3 separate regions of the Homo sapiens genome follow, and regions 2 and 3 are each linked to region 1. Evidence: fine-mapped expression QTL. A gene starts in region 1. Each other region holds a variant in brackets. All regions are shown on one strand. Distances are between the middles of the regions. Region 1 holds the start of ADGRE2 (adhesion G protein-coupled receptor E2). Region 2 overlaps ADGRE2 (adhesion G protein-coupled receptor E2). Region 3 overlaps OR7C1 (olfactory receptor family 7 subfamily C member 1).

What was found. PIP is the estimated chance that this variant, and not a neighbour inherited with it, causes the effect.
Region 2: its variant is the best candidate, but not a certain one, in a credible set for the expression of ADGRE2 in whole blood (TOPMed, PIP 0.75).
Region 3: its variant is the best candidate, but not a certain one, in a credible set for the expression of ADGRE2 in whole blood (INTERVAL, PIP 0.68).

The regions. Positions count from the first base shown.
Region 1 is chr19:14,776,036-14,781,674 of GRCh38, reverse strand. It overlaps ADGRE2 (adhesion G protein-coupled receptor E2), which reads left to right and starts at 3,115. Exons shown (of 21, transcript NM_013447.4): 1 at 3,115-3,418; 2 at 4,748-4,949. The coding sequence starts at 4,919. RefSeq lists an enhancer at 5,579-5,638.
Region 2 is chr19:14,754,469-14,759,468 of GRCh38, reverse strand. It overlaps ADGRE2 (adhesion G protein-coupled receptor E2), which reads left to right. Exons shown (of 21, transcript NM_013447.4): 12 at 3,124-3,231; 13 at 3,592-3,815; 14 at 4,342-4,515. Among named protein-coding and RNA genes, the nearest start is that of ADGRE2, 22 kb to the left of the region's middle. RefSeq lists enhancers at 1-232, 233-756. The variant A/G (reference allele first, on the strand shown) is at 2,276.
Region 3 is chr19:14,802,883-14,808,521 of GRCh38, reverse strand. The region is part of intron 2 of OR7C1 (olfactory receptor family 7 subfamily C member 1); the gene reads left to right. Among named protein-coding and RNA genes, the nearest start is that of ADGRE2, 27 kb to the right of the region's middle. The variant AAAT/T (reference allele first, on the strand shown) is at 3,113.

The DNA of each region.
Region 1 (5,639 bases):
CCCGTCTCTACTAAAAAATTAGCTGGGCGTGGTGGTGTGTGCCTGTAATCCCAGCTTCTAGGGAGGCTGAGGCAGGAGAATTGCTTGAAGCTGGGAGGCGGAGGTTGCAGTGAGCCGAGATCTCGCCACTGCACTCTAGCCTGGGTAACAGGGCAAGATTCCGTCCCCCTCACACACACACAAAAAAAGTGAAAAGTTAGCCAGGCATGGCAACATATGCCTGTAGTCCCAGCTACTTGGTAGGCTGAGGCAGGAGGATCACATAAGCCCAGGACGTGCAGGTTGCCTGAAGCCATAATTGTGCCACCGCCACTGTGCTCCAGCGTGGGCAACAGAGACCCTGTCTCTAAAATAATAACAATAAATTATACTAATATAATTAATAATACCATTATTATTGTTGGTTGGATAATCTTGGGTTGCTTCTTTTTTTTTTTTTTTTTTTTTTGAAACGGAGTCTGGCTCTATCGCCCAGGCTGGAGTGCAATAACGCGATCTCAGCTCACTGCAACCTACATCTCCTGGGCTCAAGCAATTCTCCTGCTTCAGCCTCCCAAGCAGCTGGGATTACAGGTAATCTTGGGTTACTTCTTAGCTGAGCAACCTGGGGCCAGGGGCCCCAAACCCCCAGGTTCCAGTTCCCCTTTTGACAAATGAGGACCATGTTCGCACCCCCCATCATTGCAGAGGTTGTCCAGAAGCTGCAAAATAGGTCAGCAGGACTGAGACTTCTGGACAAAGAGAAGGCGGAGAAACATAGGCAGACACCCCGGCAGGGACCAGATCAGCGAGGCTGAAGGAGGCTTCCTTTAGCTGGGCGGCAGCGGAGTGGAGTGGCAGGAGTACTACTAATTTGCATGGTTTACCATATAGGGCCCCACTCAGCACAGGCTCTGTGCTGGTGCTCTGCAGAGAAAAAGACAAAAGTCACTCAGGGGGCTGACAGCCTAATGCGGCTCGAGGGCAGATGGTTGCTAGGGAAGAAGGGAGATGGTGAGAAGTATTGGAGAGACTCAAGAAAGCCGCCAGGAATGGTGACTCACGCCTGTAATCCCAACGCTTTGGGAGGCTGAGGCGCGTGGATCATTTGAGGACAGGAGTTCGAGACCAGCCTGGCCAACATGGTGAAACCCTGTCTCCACTAAAAATACAAAAATTATCTAGATGCGATGGCAGGTGCCTATAATCCCAGCTACTCGGGAGGCTGAGGCAGGAGAATTGCTTGAACCCGGGAGGCAGAGATTGCAGTGAGACGAGATAGCACCACTGCACTCCGGCTTGGGTGACAGAGCAAGACTTCGTCTCAGAAAAAAGTAATAATAAATAATAATAATAATAATAAAATAAAAATTTAAAAAGAATGTTTCAGGCCGGGCATTGTGGTTCACGCCTGTAATCCCAGCACTTTTGGGATGCCAAGGCAGGCAGATCACTTGAGGCCAGAAGTTCGAGACCAGCCTGACCAACATAGCGAAACTCCATCTCTGCTAGAAATACAAAAATTAGCCAGGCGTGGTGGCTTGCACCTGTAATTCCAGATACTTGGGAGGCTGAGGCAGGAGAATCTCTTGAACCCAGGAGGCAGAGGTTGCTGTGAGCTGAGATCACATCACCACACTCCAGCCTGGGTGACAGAGCGAGACTCTGTCTCAAAATAAATAAATGAATGAACAAATAAATAAAATAAAATAAAAATACAAAAATTAGCCAGGTGTGGTGGTGGGCACCTGTAGTCCGAGCTACTCTGGAGGCTGAGGCAGGAGAATCGCTTGAACCCGGGAGGCGGAGGTTGCAGTGAGTCGAGATGGCGCCACTGTACTCCAACCTGGGCAACACCAGAGTCTGTCTCTAAAATACAGTAAAATAAAATTAAATTAAGAAGAGTCGATGATCACCATGAAGGGGTGTAGGGACAATCCCTGGCATCAGGAAGTGCCACTACCTCCCTGAGATTCTGCAGACGCCAGCTGTCTGACCTGCCCGTCTGATCTGCAGAGAAGGGACGTTGAGCCCTGGGGTTCTAGCTGGAGTTTCTGGCTTTCTGAGAAAAAAAAGGCAAAATCCCTCCAGACCTGGTCTGGCCCTCTCTCCTTCCAGCTTCTGCTGGTGTTCACTCCCCTCCCCCACAGCCCAGGCCACCCCCACAGGAGCCCGGGACAGGAAGGGGTAAATTCTAGGACTGTGGATGTTTGATTATTCCCAGGACAATAGTTCTCTGACTTCAGTCATTAGTGACTTTTTTCTCCATCGCTGCAATCTCCCCCTTTGAACAACTGAACTATATTTTCCTTAGCATTCATCACTTCTGCATCTTGAATTTACTCATGTAACAAGGAGACTTGATTTCGGCATCCTCACTGAAAAACCCTCCTCATTGCCCCAGATAGTAGGGAAACCTAAAAATAAATATAAATATGAGGAACACAAAACCAAGTCCTTGAATTCTGGCTGGATACAGACACCTGCTAAGCCTCAGGGTCACGGAGGCGCTAAAGACATGTTAGTGCCCAGTGGAGACTTTCCCCTGGGCTCATCGCAGGGACTCCAGGGCTGGGCTGCCGGCCTGTGGATCTGAGTCTCAGCTGGGTGAGTCACTTGTGCCTCAGTTTCCTCCTCTGTCAAATGGGAATGACAACATCATTGCAGATGTTTTAAGGAGTAAATGAGTTAATATAGATTAAAAAAAAAAAGCACTTAGGACCAGACCTGGTACAAATTAAGTGCTCCATAAATAATAGCATTTTCTTGGCAGGATAGCGAGATCTCGTCTCTACAAAAAAAAAAAACACTTAAGGAGAAAACTAGCCAGACGTGATGGTGCACAGCTGTAGTCCCAGCTCCTCAGGAGGCTGAGGCAGGAGGATCCCTTGAGCCCTGAAGTTTGAGGCTGCAGTGAGCTGTGATGGTGACCCTGCACTCCAGCCTGGGTGACAGAGTAAGATCTCTTAAAAATATATATAGCGTTTTAAAAAATGATTACGTACCTCAAGAGACAAGCTAATCATATGATTTATCCAGAAAGGAAAGAACCCTCCTATCACATGATTCTCTGTTGATTAACGAAGTGCCCAGGGGCCTCTGAAATATAAGTTTCCCACAGGAGGAAACTGGCTTAGAAAGACCAGAAAGATCCGGGGGGTCTGCTCTGTGCGGTGAAGCTTCTCTTCTTGGCACCTGCCTGGCATCGGAAGAGGGCCCCTTCTCCCTCCCTGGGCTTTTATGTGGACACTGTAATGCCTCAGTTTTCTTTCTTTCTTTTTGTTTTTGACACAGGGTCTCACTCTATCACCCAAGCTGGAGTGCAGTGGCACCATCTTAGCTCACCGCAGCCTCAAACTCCCCAGCTCGGGTGATTCTTCCTGCCTCAGCCTCCTGAGTAGTAGCAGCTGGGACCACAGACGTCTGCCACCAAGCCCAGGTAATTTTTTTTCTTTTTGAAGAAACAGAGCTTTGCCATGTTGCCCAGGCTGGTCTCAAACTCCTGAGCTCAAGCGATCCTCCTGCCTCGGCCTCCCAGAGTGCTGGGATCACAGGTGTGGAGAAATAGGAACGCTTTTACACTGTTGGTGGGAATGTAAATTAGTTCAACCATTGTGGAAGATAGTGTGGTGATTTCTCAAGGATCCAGAACTAGAAATACCATTTGACTCAGCGATCCCATTGCTGGGTATATACCCAAAGGATTATAAATCATGCTACTATAAAGACATATGCACATGTATGTTTATTGCGGTACTATTCACAATAGCAAAGACCTGGAATCAACCCAAATGTCCATCAATGATAGACTGGATTAAGAAAGTGTGGCACATATACACCAGGGAATACTATGCAGCTATAAAAAAGGATGAGTTCATGTCCTTTGCAGGGACACAGATGAAGCTGAAAACCATCATTCTCAGCAAACTAACACAGAAACAGAAAACCAAACACCACATGTTCTCACTCATAGGTGGGAACTGAGCAATGAGAACACCTGGACACAGGGCGGGAAACATCACACACTGGGGCCTGTCGGGGGGTGGGGGCCTGGGGGAGGGATTGCATTAGGAGAAATACCTAATGTAAATGACGAGTTGATAGGTGCAGCAAGCCAACATGGCACATGTATGCCTATGTATCAAACCTGCTCGTTGTGCACATGTACCCTAGAACTTAAAGTCTAAAAAATTTAATTAATTAATTAATTAATTAATTTAAAAAGAAAGAAAGAAACCGAGCTTCGCCATGTTGCCCAGGCTGGTCTCAAACTCCTGAGCTCAAGCGATCCTCCTGCCTCGCCCTCCCAGAGTGCTGGGATCACAGGCGTGAGCCTCTGTACCTGGCCTCAGTTTCCTCATCTGGAAAACAGCAGGGGAAGATACTGCCAGCTGGGACGCAGGCTCTGCCAACTCTGGCATGCCAAAGCTCTGGGCACAGGGTGAGCCCTACCAAAGTGGGAGCCCAGAGCTATTTCTGACAAGGCCCCTGCGTGCCTGCCCAGGGAAGAGCCAAGTGGCCCCAGGCGAGACCGCCCCGCCCGGCTGCCACACCTTCCCCTGCACAGCAGCCAGCCTGGAACACACAGAGGCCAGAGGGTTGGTCAGAGCCACATGGTGGAAACTCCAGCAGAGGGATTTTTAAAGCAGGTTGCACTTCATTCTTGCTGAGCGAGTACACGTGTGTGTGTGTGTGTGTGTGTGTGTGTGTGTGTGTGTGCAGCGCCCCTGGTTCTGTGTTTTTATTGTGCTTTCCTGCTGGCTTCCAGCTGCACCGCCAGTTCCGGGGAGGGCCCTGGGCCAGCGGCTGTCCGCCCCCCCTCCTTTATAAAGTCCTGGCCTCGGGACAGCCCGCACAGCTGCCCAGCCTGCGGAGACGGGACAGCCCTGTCCCACTCACTCTTTCCCCTGCTGCTCCTGCCGGCAGCTCAGCTGGAACCATGGGAGGCCGCGTCTTTCTCGTCTTTCTCGGTAAGTACTTTGGGGCCCCGCTGGGGGTGGTAGCGAGGAAGCTCCAGCGGGACCCCTTGGATGCGTCTGAGAAACGGGAGGCGCCGCTGGTGTCTGTGGGGCCGGCGATGGAGAAAGCCACATGGTCAAGCAGGCACTCACGGGCACACGGCGAGAGGGGCTGGTGGTGCTTGGGCACCCCCACACCCCGGCAGGAACTCCAGGGTGCTCTCGGAGCCTGCTACCCTGCCCGGAGGGATCCTCAAGCTTTCTACTGGAGCCAGTTTGGCATCTGCTCCATAAGAGGGGAAACTGAGGCACGGGGGAAGGAAAGGGGCAAAAAGTGAGTGCTAGGACCCCAGAGCCACTGCTCTTAATATAGCGCATAGAAAGACATGGGCGGGGGGCGGGGAAAATAGAGGCCAGGACTTCTCCACTGCAGGGTACCCCCAGCTTCTCCCTTCTTTCTCTCTCTCTCTCTGTCTTTCTCCTTCTGTCTCTCTTTCAGTCTCTCTATCTCCCTAATCTCCGTTTTCTCTCTACCTCTGCCTCTTTGTCTCTCTCTCTGGTGAACAACAAGGAGATCCCTAGGTCCCCATCTCTAAAGCCCCTGGTGACCTGAGGAGGGTCCCCCAGGACATGCCTTGGAAAGGGGAACTTCCTGAGTGCTGGGAACCGCAGCGCCACATGCACCCCAACAGGCGGCCACAG
Region 2 (5,000 bases), 22 kb after region 1:
CTAACTGTATGTCTCTACCTGTTAACTCACCTCTCTTCATCCCAGTGATACAGGAGTGAAAAAGAAATTATTTAGGCAGTTAGCAAGGGTCAGAGAGTCCTCAGTAAGGTTTCCCTTTTAATAAAAACCAGCCCCCAAATCATTTCTTTTCTAATAACGAGCAGCCTGAAAATTCGAGCTGCAGACATAGAAAAGCAAGCTGGAAGCTTGCACGGGTGAATGCCGGCAGCTGTGCCAATAGGAAAAGGTTACCTGGGGGCCCGACATGTTCAACGTGGGGGCTCCCTCTTCCTTTATCTTTGTCAACCACGTGTACAGTACAGAAGCAGGCAACGTGGAGCCAGCCAGGTAGAGAATCCATTTGCATAATAAAAGATTAGGCTGGGGCAGCCAGTTTCTTCATGCTGTATGTAAATGGCTCACCTGTTCAGACCAATCTTTAAGCCTTATGTAAATCGGACACCGCCTACCCAAGCTCATCTATAAAACTTCGTGCATTTCACCACGCAACCGGAAGACCCACTTGGGAGCCCCTGTCTCTCTGCAGGAGAGGGAGTTATTCTCTTTTTCCTTTTTTTTTTTTTGAGACGGAGTCGTGCTGTGTCCCGCAGACTGCAGTGCAGGGGCGCGATCTCGGCTCACTGCAAGCTCCGCCTCCCGGGGTCACGCCATTCTCCTGCCTCAGCCTCCGGAGTAGCTGGGACTACAGGCGCCCACCACCATGCCCAGCTAATTTTTTTGTATTTTTAGTAGAGACGGGGTTTCACCGTGTTATCCAGGTTGGTCTCGATCTCCTGACCTCGTGATCCTCCCGCCTCAGCCTCCCAAAGTGCTGGGATTACAGGCGTGAGCCACTGCGCCCAGCCAGAGCTATTCTTTTTTTCTTTCGCCTATTAAATCTCCACTCTTAAACTAACTTCTTATGTGTCCACATCCTCAATTTCCCTGGTGTGAAACAGTGAAACTTGGGTATTTACACCACTTCACTAGTGAGATGATACCTCATTGTGGTTTTGATTTGCCCTTCCCTGATAACTAATGATGTTTAACATCTTTTCATGTGTTTGCTCACCATTTGCATGTCATTTTTGGAGAAATGTCTATTCAAATCCTTTGCCTATTTTTAATTGTGCTGTTTGTCTTTTGGTTGTCCAGTTGTAAGCATTCTTTAAACATTCTGATAGTAGATCATCTGAGATGAATGATTTGCAAAATATTTTCTCCCGTTCTGTAGATTGTCTTTTCATTTTCTTGTCTTTTCACTTTAATGAATAGAAGTTTTAAATCTTGAAGACATTTATTTTATCTAATTTTTCTTTTGTTGCATGTGCAATTGGTGTCATATTTAAGAATTCATTGACAGGGGGTGGTGGCTCACGCCTGTAATCCCAGCACTTTGGAAGGCCAATGTGGGCGGATCACCTGAGGTCAGGAGTTTGAGACCAGCCTGGCCAACAAGGCGAAACCCTGTCCTTACTAAAAATAAAAATAAAAATAATTAACCAGATGTGTTGGCACATGACTGTAATCCTAGCTACTCAGGAGGCTGAGGCAGGAGAATTGCTTGAACCTGGGACACGGAGGTTGCAGTGAGCTGAGATTGTGCCACTACACTCCAGCCTGGATGACAGAGCAAGACTCTGTCCCAAAAATAAAAATAAAAAAAGAATTCATTACCGCATCCAAGACCAGGAAGATTTACCCCTGTTTCCTCCTAAGTGTTCTAGTTTTAGCTTCTAAGCTTAGGTCACTGGCTTATTTTGAGTTAATTTTTGTTTGTTGTGTGAGGGTAGGGTTAAAACTTCCTTATTTTCATGTTACTATCCAGTAATCCCAGCACTATTTGTTGAAGAGATTATTCTTTCCCCCATTGTATAGTCTTGGCACCCCTTGTTGAGAATCAACTGACCATAAGATGGATGGGTTTATTCCTGGACTCTCAATTCTATTCTGTTGTGTCCTTATGCCAGTATTACTGTCAGTTTGTAGTAAGTTTTGGAATCAGGTAGTGTGAATTCTCCAACCTTCTTGTTCTTCTTCAAGATTGTTTTTGGGTATTTGGATTCCTTACAACACCATATGAATTTTAAGATGAACTTTTCTTATTCTGCAAAGTAATAATAGGCTAAAATATTGATAGGGATTGCATTGAGTCTCTAGACCACTTTGGGGGAGTATTGTTATCTTAACAATAGAAAGTCTTCCAATCCATGAACATAGGCTGTCTTTCCATTTAGAGAGGGCCTTTTATTTCTTTCAAACACTTTTGTAGGCC[A/G]GAAGCAGTGGCTCACGCCCAATATTGTCAGAGGCCACCAAGGTGGGAGAATTGCTTGAGCCCAGGAGTTCAAGCCCAGCCTTGGAAATATACTGAAACATGATCTCCACAAAAAATTTAAAAATTAGCTGGCTGTGGTAGTGAGCACCTGTAGTGCCAGCTACTTGGGAGGCTGAGGTGGAAGGATTGGTTGAGCCCAGGAGACTGCAGTGAGCTATGATCATGCCACTGCACTCTAGCCTGACCAACAGGTGAGAATTTGTCTCAAAAAAAAAAAAATACTCAAAAAACTTTCCTATAAGTCTTGAGTCTCCTTCGTAAAATGTATTCCTAACATTTTTGCTGAAAATTTTTGCATCTATGTCCATAAGAAATATTGGTCTATAATTTTATTTTCTTGTGATGTCTTCATCTGGTTTTGTTATCAGAGCAATATTAGACTCATAAAATTACTTAAATAGTGTTTCCTCCTCTTCCATATTTTTAAAAAGGTAAAAGATTCATGTTCATTCTTTCTTAAGCTATTGGTAGAACTCACCAGTGAAGTCATCTGGTCTGGGCTGTTAGTTTTGAGAGGTTTTGATTACTGATTTAATCTGTTATAGGTCTGTTCAGATCTTCTATTTCTTCTTGAGTTGATTTCAGTGGTTTGTGTGTCACTAGGAATGTGTCCATTTCATCTAGGTTACCTACTTTGTAGATATACAGTTGCTCACACTATTCTCTTCCGATATTTTGTAACTTCAGACTATATATGTATATAGTATATATATTAAGTCATAGTATATCAACCACTGCAGGCACGATTCCTAACCTAACCCCCCTTATGTAATTCCCACAACTCATAGAATTGTCCCTGGAGGTGCAGAAGCAAGTAGACAGGAGTGTCACCTTGAGACAGAATCAGGCAGTGATGCAGCTCGACTGGAATCAGGCACAGAAATCTGGTGACCCAGGTAATGGCTGAGATGGGGAGGTGGTCAGTGAAGCTTCATGGTGGGAAAAGATGCCCAAGAATGTGAAAAATAAGAAATTTAAAGATTAAAGGGAAGTGTGGGATGTTTGGAGTGGGGCTGTAAGAGGAGAGTCCAGCTGAGGAGGAACGGACCTTGTTGGGGACCCTGAGATATTAACCGTGGCCTTGTCCTGCAGGATGTGATACACATAGAACTAAAGATTGAAGGAAAGTGTGGGAGGGGTGAAGCCAAAGGAAGGTAGCCCATCTGAGTAGAAAGTTCTGTGCAGGGCAGAGGAACTCTGGTGTGGACCCAGAGATTCAACCTACTCCAAGATTCAACCTTGGCCTCGCCCTGCAGGCCCTTCTGTGGTGGGCCTTGTCTCCATTCCAGGGATGGGCAAGTTGCTGGCTGAGGCCCCTCTGGTCCTGGAACCTGAGAAGCAGATGCTTCTGCATGAGACACACCAGGGCTTGCTGCAGGACGGCTCCCCCATCCTGCTCTCAGATGTGATCTCTGCCTTTCTGAGCAACAACGACACCCAAAACCTCAGCTCCCCAGTTACCTTCACCTTCTCCCACCGTGTGAGTGCTGGTGGAGTTGGTTGGTGGGTGAATAGTCTGAGTCCGGGCATAGCCTTGCTGCTCAGCTCAGCCCTGGGGCTCAGGGGTCTCTGTTATGGGTACATTATCTCCCCAGGAAAGTCAGTCCTTCCCAAGCCGGCTTTGGGTAAGCATTTCTGAGCATCCGACCCACCAGCTCACACCTGTGTTCTTTTTTTTATTGAGACAGAGTCTCGCTGTGTCAGCCAGGCTGGAGTGCAGTGGCACGATCTCAGCTCACTGCAGTCTCCGCCTCCCAGGTTCGAGCGATTCTCCTGCCTCAGCCTCCCTAATAGCTGGGACTACAGGTGTGTGCTACCACGCCCAGCTAATTTTTGTATTTTTTTTTTTTTTTTTTTTTTTTAGTAGAGATGGGGTTTCACCATGTTGGCCAGGCTGGTCTCAAACTCCTGACCTCAAGTGATCCACCTGCTTCAGCCTCCCAAAGTGCTGGGATTACAGGCGTGAGCCACCATGCCCAGCCCACACCTGTGTTCTGTTCCTGCAGTCAGTGATCCCGAGACAGAAGGTGCTCTGTGTCTTCTGGGAGCATGGCCAGAATGGATGTGGTCACTGGGCCACCACAGGCTGCAGCACAATAGGCACCAGAGACACCAGCACCATCTGCCGTTGCACCCACCTGAGCAGCTTTGCCGTCCTCATGGCCCACTACGATGTGCAGGTGAGACCCTTAGGAGGGGATGCACTCTGCATTTATTGCCGTGTAACAAATCCCCAGAGACGTAGCAGCCTTTTAAAAAAATATATGCATTATCTCACAGCTCTGGGTCAGCAAGCTGGCATAGCAAGATGGCTTTTCTGCTCAGGGTCTTACAAGACTGAAATCATCATGTCACCCCACCCCCAGGGCTGCCATTTCATCTGAGACTTGAGGTCCTTCTCCAAGCTCCCTGGTTGCTGGCAGAATTCAGTTTCTTGTGATTGTAGGACTGAAGTCTCACTTTCTTAGCTGTCAGGAAGGCATCACATTCAGTTCCTAGAGGCCACTCATATCCCTTCTCACATGACCCTCTGGCAAACTTCTAGCATTCCTATCTGGAGGACAAGGAAAAAAATTTCCTCACGCAGAATCCCTCTTAAGCTTTGTATTAGTCGAGGTTCTCTAGAGGGACAGAACTAATGGAATAGATAGATAGATAGATAGAT
Region 3 (5,639 bases), 27 kb before region 1:
CTGTTTCCAAGTTATTTTACTTAGGATAATGGCCTCCAGTTCCATCCATGTTGCTGCACAAGACATGAATTCATTCTTTTTATGGCTGAGTAGTATTCCGTTGGCTGTATATATACCACATTTTATTTATCCAATCATACATTGGTGGACACTTAAGTTGATTCTATGACTTGGCTATTGTGAATAGTGCTGTGATAAACGTATTAGTTCAGGTGTCTTTTGTGTAATGATTTCTTTTCTTTGGGGTATATACCCACTAGTGGGATTGCTGGATTGAATGGTAGTCCTACTTTTAGTTCTTTGGGAAATCTCCATACTGTTTTCCATAGAGACTGAATTAATTTGCGTTCCCACCAACAGCACATAAGCAGTCCCTTTTCTCTGCATCCTCACCAACATCTGTTGTTGTTTTTTTTTTTTTTATTTCTTTAAAATAACCATTCTGACTGGTGTAAGATGGTATCTCATCGTGGTTTTAATTTGCATTTATCTGATGATTACACCAGTCAGAATGGTTTATTATTAAAGAAATAAAAAAATATGTTGGTGAGGATGTAGAGAAATTTTTGAGCAATTTTTCATGTTTGTTGACTGCTTCTAAAGACTGTTTGTTTGTTTTTTTTTTTGAGACTGAGTCTCGCTCTATCACCCAGGCTGGAGTGCAGTGGCACAATCTCGGCTCACTGCAAGCTCCGCCTCCTGGGTTCACGCCATTCTCCTTCCTCAGCCTCCTGAGTAGCTGGGACTACAGGCACCCACCACTATGCCCAGCTGAATTTTTGTATTTTTAGTAGAGACAGGGTTTCACCGTGTTAGCCAGGATGGTCTCAGTCTCCTGACCTCGTGATCCACCACTGTTTTAATTCAATCAGGAGTTAATGTGTCTCCTCCCTAAAAGAATGGGTCACCATGATCACTCTGTGCTAACCTGAGGCACAAGGGTTTACTCTATCTCTCTGCTGCCCCATCTTTAATGTGTTGTTTTCCAAGATATATCAGCTAAGGGAATTCCAGTGTCATGTGCAAATCCCAGGCAAGAAAGAGATGAACAGAGGGGAAGGATTCTAAAGAGGATTCCAGGATTCCCATCAAATAAATTCCTATGCTTCAACTCTCCATGATTTTGCAATAGAGAGTGGAAAATATAGTATCTTAGCTGGACACATGACCACTTCCAAATATAATTGAGTTCTATTAATAACAAAAAAAGAATGGATATATTGGGTAGGCAATCTCTGGCACAATGATCAATTACAAGATTAGCAGGATCCATAACATTAAAACAAAAAAGTGCTTAATAGAAGCATGGCCATCCCTACATGAACAGACACTTCTCAAAAGGAGACATTTATGCGGCCAACAAACATGAAAAAAAGCTCAACATCACTGATCATTAGAGAAATGCAAATCAAAACCACAATGAGATACCATCTCATGCCAGTCAGAATGGCAATTATTAAAAAGTTAAGAAATAACAGATGCTGGCAAGACTGTGGAGAAATAGGAATGTTTTTACACTGTTGGTGGTAACCTATATTAGTTCAACCATTGTGGAAGACAATGTGGCAATTCCTCAAGGATCTAGAACCAGAAATACCATTTGGCCCAGCAATCCCATTACTGGGTATATACCTAAAGGAATATAATTCATCCTATTATAAATATACATCCACACATATGTTTATTGCAGCACTATTCACAATATCAAAGACATGGAATCAACCCAAATGCCCATCGATGATAGACTGGATAAACAAAATTTTGTGCATATACACCACAGAATACTACGCAGCCATAAAAAGGGACAAGACCATGTCCTTTGCAGGGACATGGATGAAGCTGGAAGCCATCATCCTCAGCAAACTAACACAGGAATGGAAAACCAAACACCTCATGTTCTCACTCATAAGTGGGATCTGAACAATGAGAATGCATGGACACAGGGAGGGGAACAACACATACTGACGCCTGTCAGTGGGAGTTGGCAGAGGGAGCGCATCAGGATAAATAGCTAATGCATGCAGGGCTGAATACCTAGGTGATGGGTTGACAGGTGCAGCAAACCACCATGGCACACATTTACCTGTGTAACAAATCTGCATGTCCTGTACATGTATCCTGGAACTTAAAATAAAACTTAGCAACATGGCCATTCCTGACATGAAGGCATAAAATACATTAATGACTGTTTCTCTTAAAGCAGTCACATTGTGTGATGGAAGGAGCAATGTTTCCAGCCAATTCCCTTGAAGGAATCCAAAAACACATTTTTAGATTCTTGAAATGTTCCTTAATGTAGGCTAAAGACCTCACACACAGTAACAGCCACACAGCAGTAGAGGGGAGCCAAGGACACTAGGTATTGCCCAGGTATTCAGGAGCCCTGAAAAAAATAGCAGTAAACCTTGTCTTGAGTTAAAGCACATCTCATTGAGTGACAAGAACATTTAGACTCTAAATAGTACAGACTTATTGTATAATACCATCATAGTTAGAGGACAATTTTCTGTATTATTAACATTAATTTGGTGTCTCCAATTAACAAGTCACCATCTGGTCTTACTTTGATGTCCAAATTACATTTTTGGATTGACTCATATCAGTATATGTCCCAGAACTGTTGTAATTTTTAGATAGCAGTCTTATATAAATGGGATAATAAAAATAGCTGGTCCCTCTCAAAGTTTGTGACTTAAAAATGTTATTACTAGATCCCTAATGGATGGTCACATGTGGAAGGTAGAAAAAGAAAACCCAATGAAGCTGGTCATTCAGATTATTTTTTGTCACACAGAAATAATTTCCCAGGCCGGGCATGGTGGCTCACGCCTATAATCCCAGCACTTTGGGAGGCCGAGAAAAGTGGATCGCTTGAGGTCAGGAGTTCGAGACCAGCCTGGGCACATGGCAAAACTCTGTCTCTACTAAAAATACAAAACAAGGCCGGCTGTGGTGGCACATGCCTTTTATCCCAGCTACTCAGGAGGCTGAGGCAGGAGAATCACTTGAACCCAGTAGGCGGAGGTTGCAGTGAGCTGTGATCATACCACTGCACTCCAGCCTGGGTGACAGAGTGAGATTCTGTCTAAAAAAAAAAAAAAAAAAAAAAAAA[AAAT/T]TATTTTCCTGTTTCTTGGGTCCTGCCTCAGTGGACCATCATGGGAGACATGAAGATGCTCCAGGGATGGTCCTAGATTACAGAAGGCACCAGGGTCTCAATGAGCCTTGAATCAATGTGCATCTCATTCCCCTTGAGTGTGAGGAAGCTCTAGCCCCAAGAACTCTCAGATTTTTTTTTGCAGGCAGGAGGAGTACAGACTGGGGACCTTCTTTGGGCATTCTGCAGCGTAGTGATCAAAGCTGAACAAGAAATGTTCCTTCTAACCCCCGTGCTTGTGAATTCAAACATTGAGGCCATATACATAGCAGAGGAATTTAATAGGAATTCAATAGGCAATCAAACTTCCTATCTATCTAGATCCACTAGCTTCTGGGTGTGACGGTGCATTCTTGTAGTCTCAGCTACTTTGGAGGCTGACATGTGAGGATTGCTTGAGCCCAGGAGGTCAAGGCTACAGTGAGTCATGATTGCACCACTGCACTCCAGCCTGGGCAACAAAACAAGACCTTGTCTCAAAAAAAAATTATTGAGATGAAATTAATATAACATAAATTAACCAGTTACTTGAAAGCAAGCAATTGAGTGCCATTCACTACATTCTGTGTTTTGCGCAACCACCATCTCTATCTAGTTTCAAAACATTTCCATTACTCCTAAATAAAACCACTTACACATTACAGTAGCACTTTATCCTCATCCCCTACCCCCGCTCCCCAGTCCCTGCGACTCGTTATCCTGCGACTCGTTTATGTATTGTGGCTATTTCATGTAAATGAGATTGCATGTAAACGAAGAAGCCCAGGCATTGAGCCTCAGTAAAGGCTTCCTTGGGGTCAGGTTCTACTAATTAATTATTCTTTCCTTTGCTATACTTTCTTGTTTCATTGCATGTCTCATAATATTTCATTACAACTAAATATTTTGAATATTATAGTGTGGCGACTCTGGAAATCAAATTTTCTCTCCTCCTTGGGGTTTATGGTTGCTGCTTTTTGTAATTTGCAGTTGTTTACTTGCCTAATGAGTCTTCTAATTTTATAAAGATTGCATATTTGTCCAGTGTGTGGTTGCTGAAGTCTCTAGGCTGTTAGCTTAATGGCCAGAGAGTGATTTGATAAGAGATTTCCTTAAACAGTGGAGCCCAAAACCAAAATCTCCCAACCTTTGCAGTTTGGCTCTGTATGTGCTTTCAGACAGGCCTTTACCACTCAGCTGAGCATTTTTCAACTCCAGCCTTTGCCTTAACTTCCTACTTGCACAGAGCTTGAATATCAGCTACAGGTGAGAGGTCAGGGCCTTCTAGATGTTTACTTAGCATGCAATCCTGGGTAGGACACCTATGTATCCTACATTCCCAGGAATCTTTCTGATATAGGAGTTAAAAAGAAATATTTAGGCCAGGCACGGTGGTTCACGCCTGTAATCCCAGCACTTTCGGAGGCCGAGGCAGGTGGATCACGAGATCAGGAGATCAAGACCATCATGGCTAACACGGTGAAACCCCGTCTCTACTAAAAATACAAAAAATTAGCTGGGCTTTGTGGCACGCGCCTGTAGTCCCAGCTACTCAGGAGGCTGAGGCAGGAGAATCACTTGAACCCAGGAGGCAGAGGTTGAAGTGAGCCGAGATCGCGCCACTGCACTCCAGCCTGGGCGACACAGCGACACTCCGTCTCAAAAAAAAAAAATTATTATTATTATTATTATTTAGGTAGATAGGGAGGGTAAGGAAGTCCTTGGTAAGGTTTCCCTTTTAATAAAAAGCAGCCCCCAAATAATTTCTTTTCTAACAAAAAGCAGCCTGTAAAATCAAGCTGCAGATATAGATAATCAAGCTGGAACCCTGCACGGGTGAATGCTGGCAGCTGTGACAAATAGGAAAAGGCTGTCTGGGAGCCAGGCATGTTCAACATGGTGACTCCATCTTCCCTTTTCCTTGCAAACCACGTGTACAGTAAGGAGAAGACAACATGGCAGCGACCCGCAAAGACCCCATCTGCATAATAGAAGATTAGGATGGAGCAGCCAGCTTCCTCCGGACTATGTAAACGTCACACCTGGTCCAACCAATCTTTTCTTTTTTTTTTTTTTTTTTTGGAGACATAGTCTCCCTCTATCACCCAGGCTGGAGTGCAGTGGTGTGATCTCGGCTCACTGCAACCTCCATCTCCCAGTTTCAAGTGACTCTTGTGCCTCAGGCTCCCAAGTAGCTGGGATTACAGATGCGCACCACCACACCCAGCTAATTTTTGTATTTTTAGTAGAGACGGGGTTTCACCATGTTGGCCAGGCTGGTCTTGAACTCCTGACCTCAGGTGATCCACCTGCCTCAGCCTCCCAAAGTGCTGAGATTACAGGCGTGAGCCACGACGCCTGGCCCCAACCAATCTTTGGGCCCTATTTAAATCAAACACTGCCTCCTCAAGCCAGTCTATAAAATCCAGTGTACTTTGCTGCCAGCAGGAAGTCCCACTCAGGCACGTTCTCCTTTCTCTTTCTTTTGCCTATTAAACCTCTGCTT